Linked DNA regions of Homo sapiens: region 1 is linked to region 2. Evidence: fine-mapped expression QTL. A gene starts in region 2. The other region holds a variant in brackets. All regions are shown on one strand. Distances are from middle to middle.

Evidence for each region.
Region 1: its variant is fine-mapped to the expression of MMP15 in whole blood (INTERVAL, PIP above 0.99). The same link has a PIP of 0.9 or more in blood mononuclear cells.

What each region holds. Positions count from the first base shown.
Region 1 is chr16:58,106,633-58,112,144 of GRCh38, reverse strand. No RefSeq gene overlaps it. Among named protein-coding and RNA genes, the nearest start is that of CFAP20, 20 kb to the left of the region's middle. RefSeq lists an enhancer at 2,658-2,707. The variant C/T (reference allele first, on the strand shown) is at 2,657.
Region 2 is chr16:58,023,290-58,028,289 of GRCh38, reverse strand. It overlaps MMP15 (matrix metallopeptidase 15), which reads right to left and starts at 2,536. Exons shown (of 10, transcript NM_002428.4): 1 at 1,778-2,536. The coding sequence starts at 1,939. RefSeq lists enhancers at 872-1,421, 1,972-2,521, 2,754-3,339, 3,340-3,927 and a silencer at 2,388-2,527.

The DNA.
Region 1 (5,512 bases), 84 kb before region 2:
TTTAAATCACTTGTATACTCTCTTCTACTATTAAAAAAAACAATGTTTTTGGCCAGGCGTGGTGGCTCACGCCTGTAATCCCAACACTTTGGGAGGCCAAGGCAGGCAGATCACTTGAGGTCAGGAGTTTGAGACCAGCCTGGCCAACATGGTGAAACCCCATCTCTACCAAATATAAAAAATTAGCTGGGTGTGGTGGCGCGCTTCTGTAATCCCAGCTGCTTGGGAGGCTGAGGCAGGAGAATTGCTTGAACCTGGGAGGCAGAGGTTGCAGTGAGCTGAGATAGTGCCACTGTACTCCAGCCTGGGTAACAGCAAGACTCTATCTCAAAAAAAAAATTTTTTTTGGAAAGACATTTTTGTAATAAAAATTTCAAAGTTAATGCAAGAGCAAAAGGCTATTCCAGATTCTGTGCCCTCCCCAGTCACTCCCCGGGGTTTGCTGTCATTGCACAGACTGGAACTGTGGGCACCTGCCATTTTGACTTTGGTTAGAGGTAAAAACATTAAGTTCTGGGATTTGTCATTACCATTGCTGCCTTCTGAGAAGTTAAATGGCAGGAAGCACGCTTTCCCCACATCCGTATCCTCCAGAGTATGCTGTGGGGAAGCATGGCCAAGTCTCTGAGGAGGCAGGGGCTACAGGAGGTGGAGAAGTGGAGGGGAGGGTGCTCCACAGCTACCTGATGAGACAGTTGTCAAGTGCCTGAAACTCAGGTGGGCGCAGTTAAGACAACTTTCCCCTTTTTCCTTCTGCTGGTGACCAGCCTGGAGCCACCTTCTGGAGGATGCTGCCCCTCTCCTTTGAGTCCCTAGTCATCAGCATCACAGAACACACCCCCTCAGCCCAGGTGACAGAGCCTGCTCTTGCAGGGCTAACTCTGGTCAAAACTGAACGTCGTCCTGCTTCCCTGTGCTTAGCATGTCAGCATCCCCCTCTTAGGCAGTGTGCCTGTCTCCTTCACTTTCTTGCTTACAATAGGAATCCTCAAATGGCTGAGTGGGTGGAGGGGTGGGCAATAACCAACAGAGTGTCTAGCCTCTGGCCACTGTCTAGTGAAATCTTCCCTCCAATCCAGACTCGATTATGGCATGAAAGATGCTTTTGTGATGACAAGAAAACCGCGTTAACTTCTCATCTCTTCTGGGTGCCAGGATATCAGTGAAGTGCTCCTGGGGGTTCAGAGCAACACAGGGAGGCACTCTCCTCCACACAGAGCCTCTTTCACCCCAGGCACTTGTTAGACCGTGTCTGGGGATTACCTCACCACCCTTTGGGGTGGTAGGTGGTGACTTCCCAGATGCCTCACATACCCATCCCAGAGGAAGAAGGAAGCGAGGGGCCCCGGGGGTGATGAGAGGTATTATCTGAGCTGGCCCCAGGCCAGGGTGAATAGTGGTGTCATGACTGCACAGCCCCTTGCCTGCAGCTTTCCAGCTCCCCAGGAAGACGACAACCTCCAGTGAGGCTGAGGGAAGAGGGAATGACAGGCTGCTGGGCTGAGGCGCCCTCATGGAGTTTGGGCCTGGGTGATCTCGGATCACGGTAATTGGAGCAGGCAGAATTGCATTATCCAGCTCCTTGGAAGTCACAGTGTGTTTTAGAAGGAATTGCCCTCTAAATGAGAGAGTGTTAGTTAATTGGCATGAACTTGGAATAGCACACAGCCGTTCCCAACAGGGCTGATTCTGGGGGAGAGTAGATTTACTCTGGCCCTTAATTGCCCCTGGCCCGTTGATTGCTTCCTCTATAGCCAGGCTAGAAGACTGGCCGGCGCCACACCAGTCAGCTCCTGGGGCATTTCTGAAGGTTGCAAGAATCCCAGAGAACAACCCCAAACCGATGTCCCTAGCCCCTCAGTGGCTTCACCCAGAAGCCCTAAGTGTCAGGAAATTCACTGAAAAAGATCTTGCAGCTCTTGTCTGCATCCTCATCCCCTCATTTTACTGATCAGGACACTGAAGCCCAGAGAGGGATGGGCTAGCCCCTCTAGAAACAACGGGGTGGAACGAGGACCCCATGCTCCTGAGGAGACCCATATGCCATCCCTGTCCTCTTTTGTGTTGGCATCCCCTTGCATCAAGCACTGGAGTCAGCTCTGCCCAGCAGTGAGGGCTGGCCTGCCCAGTCACTATGTGGTCACATATTAGTTGAACACAAGGGTCTGAGGCTGACAGTAAAAATCTCATTTGTGTTTAACCAGGGAATCATAAAAGTAATACATGCTCATGGTACATTCATGAGCTCATGGTTCAAAGAATATGAAGGGCTGGGCACGCCTGTAATCCCAGCACTTTGGGAGTTCGAGGCAGGTGGATCACTTGAGATCAGGAGTTTGAGACCAGCCTGGCCAACAGGATGAAAGCCCATCTCTACTAAAATACAAAAAAATTAGCCGGGCGTGGTGGCGTGCACTGCTAATCCCAGCTACTCAGAAGGCAGAGGCAGGAGAATTGCTGGAACTTGGGAGGCGGAGGTTGCAGTGAGCTGAGATCGCACCACTGTACTCCAGCCTGGGCAACAAGAGTGAAACTCCATCTCAAAAAAAAAAAAGAAAGAATATAAAGTAACATATAAGTCCCACTTCCCATTTCTGAAATGACAGCACCCGAATGTATTAACAGAATGTAGTTGCCCTTTCTTCCTGCACCCAGC[C/T]GCCTAGCATGAACAGCTTTTTCAGTTTCCTGATCGCTGTCATGTGTGTTCTCTCAGGAGCCTGGGAAGGCCTGGCACTGCAGATGACTTCTAACGACAATGGAGACCCACGCAGTACATGGCAGTGCTTTTCAGAAGGTAGCATGCTTTCATAGCCGTTGCATGTGGCGCCCTTGGGATCCTGTCTGGAAGGTTATATGTGGCGCTGCCCCCATCTATGGACAAGCACAGAAGTTAAATAGCTCACAGGGGCTGCATGGCTCACATGGGCCAGAGCTGGGAATAAAGCCTAGGGCTTCCTGCTAGAAGGTCAGGCTCCTGATGCTGAGCACAAGTGTCTGCTCATAAGGCATCTAGAATAGACTTGAATAGGCCGGGCACAGTGGCTCATGCCTGCAATCCCAGCACTTTGGGAGGCCGAGGCGAAAAGAACAACTGAAGTCAGAAGTTTGAAACCAGCCTGGCCAACATGGTGAAACCCTGTCTCTACTAAAAACGTAAAAATTAGCTGGGCATGGTGGGCACCTGTAATCCCAGCTACTCAGGAGGCTGAGTCAGGAAAATCGCTTGAACCCGGGAGGCGTAGGTTGCAGTAAGCCAAGATTGTGCCACTGCACTCCAGCCTGGGCAACAGAGCAAGACTGTCTCTAAATAAATAAGGATAGACCTAATTGGTTGGAGGGCGGGGGGTGCACAATGTACCTTTCCCACAGGAAGATGAATCTACTGAATTTTAATTCATATTCTTAAATTATGTTGCTGGGCCAGGCACAGTGGTTCATGCCTGTAATCCCAGCACTTTGGGAAGCCAAGGCGGGATGATCACCTGGGACCAGGAATTTAAGACCAGCCCAGGCAACACACCGAGACCCCATCTCTACAGAAAATAAAAAACTTAGCCAGGCATGGTAGCATGCATCTGTAGTCTCAGCTACTGGGGAGTCTGAGGTGGGAGGATCACTTGAGTCGGGGAGGTGGAGGCTGCAGTGAGCTATGATTGCACCACTGCACTCCAGCCTGGGTAACAGAGCAACACTCTAAAAAAATAAATAAAAATCCAGCAAATTCAGAGTCCTTGGCCCTGGCCTATTTAAAATGCATATTTCTGGGACCCAGCTTATTAAAATGACAATTGTCCCCACCCCAAGAGATAACATTTTTATTCTCTCTCTCTGTCTAAAGCCAACCCAGAAATCTGCATCTTAATACCTTCTCCTGGTGTTTTTTGGTGATTCTGTCATCTGAGAGTGGCTCCACATTTGAGTGAGTGGATATGATACATCTGAGCGTAGAGAGGTCAGACACTGCTGGGAGAGAAAAGAAACGTAAAACACCGCCCTCCCCGCCCCCACCCACCACCCAGGCACATCTGCAGATTGCAACCTCCTCCTACCAAAAACAAACAAACAAAAGAACCCTTAAGTTCCTCCTTTTATACAGAATTCTAATATGTCATTGACATCTCCATACATTTTCCATAACCTGAAAGTGTGAGGTCCTGTAATGCAAATCACGAGTGCCTCTGGGCTGTGATAGAGGCACTCCAAATTGCAAATCCACAAGACATTGAACATCTGGATAGAGCATGAGCCTTGGAAAAATCATGCCTCTTGGTATCCATGGTGTCTGAAGCGAAGCAAAGCAAAACAGTGTGCCAGGGGTGGATATGGAAAGGGATTGAACAGAACCCCTTGTTAAAGGGGTATAAAAGGTCACCAAGCTCCTCTACTCTTCTATTGAATGACAGCAATAAATATCAATATAAGCCTCCATGGGTTCTCTCATCACTTGGGTATCCCCCAGCCCCTGTTTCCATAAAGTCTTAAATTGTAAATCCTGGTATTTTGGAGGGAATACAGTAAAATCAATAAATACAGTAAAATCGGGCCATAAATACACTAGCCTTTGGGTTCCAAGTCACTCTCCAAAGCTCCTTCCCATCCTCCAAGACTGTCCTCATGTTTACTTGAACCTAAAGCCTCTTTACAAGCCTGAGACCTCTTTTCTTGGTATTAGAAACTGACCTAAGCCCCCAGCAGTAAAAGGCAGGGAGAGCTGTAGTTCTCATTCCCTCCACCTGACTGCTGGTAGTGTGCTACAATGAAAGCAAATCTCAGCCCTTAAGGAAGGAGAAAAAAAATTATTAGTGAGCATGCAAAATAGGTTCATGCCACCTACACCTAAAGCTCGGTGGAAGTGCATGTTTTAGGATGTATGATGATATGGTTTGGCTGTGTCTCCACCCAAGTCTCAAATTGTAGCTTCCATAACTCCCCTGTGTTGTGAGAGGGACCTGGTGGCGGGTCTTTGCCATGCTGTTCTTGTGATAGTGAATAAGTCTCATGAGATCTGATGGTTTTATTTAATTATTATTATTATTATTATTATTATTGAGACAGAGTCTTGCTCTGTCACCCAAGCTGGAGTGCAGTGGCATGATCTTAGCTCACTGAAACCTCCGCCTCCCAGGAGTGATTCTCCTGCCTCAGCCTCTGGAGTAGCTGGGATTACAGGTGCACACCACCATGCCTGGCTAACTTTTTTTGTAGTTTTAGTAAAGACGAGGCTTCACCATTTTGGCATGGCTGGTCTAAAACTTCTGACATCAGGTGATCCACCAGACTTGGCCTCCCAAAGTGCTGGGATTACAGGCATGAGCCACCATGCCCTGCTGGTCTGATGGTTTTAGAAAGGAGAGTTCCAGCCGGGTGCAGTGGCTCACACCTGTAATCTCAGCACTTTGGGAGGCCGAGGCAGGTGGATCACCTGAGGTCAGGAGTTCAAGAGCGGCCTGACCAATATGGTGAAACCCCGTCTCTACTAAAAATACAAAAATTAGCCAGGCATGGTGGCAGG
Region 2 (5,000 bases):
GATCAGGAGCACGGTTTGTGATAACGCAACCATGGCTTCTTCCCTGGCGGCATCGAGCTGTGGGCACTCCCTGAGCTGGGGAGTTGGGGTAGGGGTGAGATGGAACTGGAAAAGCAGAAGAGAGAGAGAGTGAAGCCCCTCCAACTACAGGTCCCTGCACCCCTGAGCTCCTGGCCAGCTAGGATGCCATTAGCAATGCACGGCCATTGAATTCCATCACTGCTTCCTATGTATTGACGCCATCCCTAAGTAGATTAGAAACTCAATGGTGGGACTGTGACTTGAAATTCTTTGGCACTCCAGCCCAGAGTGGCAGGTGGGCCCAAATGGCACTCTCCGCCCAGTACTTGGGTCACAGGCTGAGGGGTAATCCTCACCAACAGGAGCCCCCTAAAGCTCCTCCTGCCTGTGTGAATGGGGTGGGGGAGGGTGGCCAGACTGGGTCGGGGCGGGGCTCCTATCCTGCCTCCCACCAGGGCCTGGCTCCTCCTTCAGCTCTCCCTGGCCAGGCCAGGGAGGGAGGGCAGAGCAGGTGGGGAAATGGCTGGGAGGTGTAACTCGAGCCCAGGAGGAATTCCCTGCCCTTCCTCTATGCTTTTATTAAAGTAGGGCGGGGAAGGGCAAGCTTCCATCGGAAAAATCTCCCAGGCAGCCCGGAGAGGTGGGAAAGCCGCCGTGGGCCAGGGAGGGAGCACCAGCTGAGCTGCAAATAGAAACGGCGCTCAGGCCCGCAGCCCGGGCAGCCCAAGGGCACCAAGGCCTGAGCACCGTTCAGAAGCGGCTCCGGGGTGGTTCTTTCTCCCTACTCCCCGCCCAAGTCCTCTCCCCGCCTATCTGGGGCAGGGCGCAGGTCTTAGAAGTCGGGGAAGAGTGGACCCTGCTCTTGCTCTGGGGCAAGAAAGCTGGCGCCTTCGGTGTCCTCGCTCGGGAGACACCATGGAGCTGGGGCGCTGGCTGGACTCGGCTCTACGCCGGGATGTCGCGCCTGGTCACCCGCGGGACCCATCCAGAGCGGGGCCCCGGGAGGGACGCCAAGCGGGCTCCTAGCGAAGAGAGGCGCGGGGTCCACCCTCTCGAATCCAGGGCTTCGACGTAGGGGCGCTGTTGGGAGGAAGCGCTGTGGGAGGCAGGGTCCGTCCTTAGGACCCCGCCCGGGCGTGCCTAGGCTTCCTCGCAAAAGCGCAGAAAGTCGCCAAAGCGCCCCCGCAACCCGAGTCCGCTGCCTCAGCCGTTTGCACCCATCCCCCCGCCTCCATCCTGGCCCGCCGTGCGCGGCTCGGTATCACCCAGACGGGAGGCCACCTGGGCAGGAGCGCAGTTGCCCAGCCGCCCAGCTCTTGCTCCGCCTGTGGCTGTCCCCGAGAGCAGCCCCCTCCCCACTCGCAAAGAGCGCCACTGCGCGCCAGCCGGGCTCTCGAGGAATCGGCTGCCCTGGAGGGAAGGAAGGAGGGGAGGCAAGGGCTGGGGGCGGCGGAAGCGGCTCCCGGGACACAGGCTGAATGTAAGGGGGTCGGGGTGGGGGCTCAGTGCCCAGAACAGGGCTGTAGGAGTAGCGGGGAGGAGAGCGAGGCCCTGCGCCCTCAAGGGTTTGCGAAGAGGTGCGCTGCAGAGGGCGAGCTGGGGAGGGGCAGACTGCCAAGTCCGCTTGCTTCCCCGCCACGGCCCAGAACAGGGGGCGCGTCTCCGCTCCCTCCACCTCCAAGTCCCAGCCTGCGGACGTGGCGCCTCTCCCTCCAAGCCCCCAGCCCGCAGCCAAAGGGCAGGGCGGGGGTCTTACCTCGGCATGGACCTCCGCGTCTTCGGCCGCTACGCCAAGGCCCAGGCAGCCCAGAAGCACCAGGAGCAGCGGCAGCAGTCGCGGCCGCGCCGCCTCCTCCCGGTCGCCGAGGAGGCTGCCCGTCCAGCCCGGCCGTCCGGGCGCGCTCGGGTCGCTGCCCATGCTCTCGGCGCCCAGCCCAGCTCGGAACACTGCACGCCGGATCCTCGCACGCGCCTTGGAAACTTGCGACGCTCCCTGGCTCCTGGCCCGGCAGGCGCGCCGCGGACCTCGGGCTCCCGGTCCCCGCCGGAGCCGCCTAGGTCGCCTCGGCAAATTCCCAAGCCCGAGGAGAAGCGGGCAGGGCAGGTCCGGGAGCTCGGAACCAGCCGGCGGGAAAGGGGGCCGACCGGAGCTGCCCCCGGCGAGGTTCCGCAGCCTCGGCGCCCAGCGCCTGGGGCCCGGCTCCCGAGAGCAAGCGCAACTCCGGAGCCTTTGTCTGGCTCAGCGCTCCGGCCGCCCGGTCCCGCGGCGCTCCCTGCGCGCCCAGCTCCCTCTGTCCATGCCCGGGGCCGGGCGCTGCCCGGAGCGCGCGCCTCCTGCACGGGGATTCTGCTCGCCGCCGCGCCCGACCGGGCCCGGGTCCCCAAGCAGTCCCGGGAGGAGGCGCAGGGAGCCGACCCGAGAGAGCGAGCGAGAGAGCAAGCGAGCCAGCCAAGGAGCGGGCGCCCGACGTCCCCGGCGAGTTCAGCGCGGCTCCGGGCGCTCCCAGCCCTCCTCCCCGCGCGCCGCGGCCGCCGCGCTCTTAAAGGGCCAGTGTGCTCCCAATGCGCGGACCCGGGCGGGGACCGGGGGCGGTGCCCCAGCCGCAGGCTTCTCACAAGCAGGTGCGGGCGGCCGAGGCCCGACAGGTGGGCGGTCCGTTTACGCTTCCCAGACGGCAGGAAACCTCTCCAGCCCACCCCGCGTCACTCCCAACCCAGCGCCTAGGGGGCGGGGGTGACCTCCAACGCGACCCCCCGCGGAGGGAGGAGGCAGGGAAGGCGTGGTCTCCCCGCCTGGGAAGAATGAAGACTCCTCCTTCTCATACCTGGTGGGGGATACCGAGGCCTAGGCGGACGGGAAGGAGGTCTTAGGGGAGGGATCAAAGAGTCGTTTTAGGCTTAAATATAAATATATATGTATATATGGATATTTGTCAGCCTGAAACCTCTTTTCAAAAGCCGCAGGGTGTCTCTGGCCATTGAATAACTTTCCTCAGTAGCAAAGTGAGGGTTTTGTGCGCGTCGAGGGCGCGTTGCGGCGGACAAGGGGCAGGTTTAGGAGGGACACGGTTCAAGTTCCGCGTCCGCCCCTTAGCTGCCGCTTGCACGTGGGCAAATTAATCTCTCCGAGCCTCCATGTTCTTATCGGGAACGTGGGGCAAAGAGTTGGGGTGAGGGCGAGGTAAGACTTCCGGCTCCTGGCCTGGCGCAATAGGTGCCCAAGCACTTTGGCCACTGGCTGGTGCGAGTGAAGTGCGACAGTGCGGCCGGAGTCGGCGCGGGGCGGGTGGACACACCTCCCCGCGAAGCTTAACGAGCTGGATTTCATTCTATTCCGGAAGCAGCTTGAGGTCGGGGCGGGGTGGATGCAGGAGGCCAGAGCTGGGAGGCCCGGGTCGAAGGTCCACCGAGACCCGGGGACCAGGCCAAGGGCAGCCCTGGCGCGGCGGACTGGCCGGCGTGGTCAGTGGGTGAGGGTTGCAGGCAGGAGGGCGGAGACCGAAGATAAGCTGTTCCTTATCTTCAGACCCGGAAATGGAAGCCGTCCTCACCTGAGGGCGGTTTTCTCTAGAGCAGGCCCTCGGGGCACCCTAGCCGGCCTCACCTCCCGGAAACTGGAAATCAGGAGACCTGGCAGAGTGCCTTAGAGAGGGCGCGTTTGAACCCTCCTGGGATGTCCTTGGGGAAAGGAAGTCGGAGTTTAGAGAAAGGAACCGGGCGATTCTATCATTTCCACGGACTCACTTCTCTGTGGGATCCTTCATCTGGGAAGTTGGTTTCTAAATTCTCCACTTCGAAATTTGCTTTTGGGAAATGTGCAGTGGTCTTCAGACACGGACAACGGGGTTGTCCTTGTTTAACCGACCACGTCGCACTCTTTCATGATATTTAGTCCCGATTAGCCAATTTTAAAAAGTTTGGGGCTAGGTAAAGTGGCTCAAGCCTGTAATCCCAGCACTTTGGGAGACCGAAGTGGGAGGATTGCTTTAGCCCAGGAGTTCAAGACCAGCCTGGGCAACATGACAAGACCCCATCTGTACAAAGAATACAAAAATTAGCCAGGTGTGGTGGTGTACGTCTGTAGGCCCAGCTACTTGGGAGGCTGAGTTGGGAGGATCACTTGAACCCAGGAGGTTGAGGATGCAGTGAGCTATGATCATGCCGCTGCCCTTCAACCCGGCTGTCAGAGCGAGACACTGTCTCAGAAAAAAAGAAAAAAAAAGTTGGGGTTTAAGGGGCTAGCTGTTAGTGAGAGGAGCCCAGGAATGAGTGGAGCAACGTTCTTTGAGGCCTGGGTCGGTCAAGTCTGGTGATTTTCTCTCTGTTGGAGGTTCCTCTCTTGGGGTCCAATCCTGCCTTAAGGAAATGACATCCCCTGTGACCAGATCTTGAAGCTCCCAATTATTGGTTCTGGCTCCTATAGGTACTTTGGGAGTCCAAGGTGGATTTGCATCTACATCCAACCCAAGATAGCTGGGTTTCTACTGGGTCTGGACAGCACCCAAAGCCCGAAAGGACTAGTCAGTGGGACTGAGATGTGTGAACTGCAGCCCTTCCATCAAGTAGCTTTAAACCTTATCCATATTTTGCCAATACCGTTTCATCTATGCCCTGACACCCCCGCCCACCACCACACACCTTTTTTTTCTTGGTCTTTTGAATGAAAGCCCAGACATGGTGTTTCAGAGCAGTTTCATTTAGAGGTCCCGATGTGGTGTGAGGGATTGTAAAAAGCTCTGGATCAGAAGCCAGGTCCCTGGGTTTTTGCCTCAGCTGTAATTTACTGGGCAATCCGAGCAAGTTATTCCCCTCTTTGGGTTTGTTTCCTCATTTGCAAAAGGAGAGTTCTGAGGTCGTAGGGGAGGTCTCCTGTTCAGTGAAGGAAAGTAGCTGTGGGATGGAACTAGGCCCAGGACACCCCCTCCCCCAGCTCTCCCCTCCAGGGGCCCCTCGGGCGATGCACCCACCCGACCCACCAT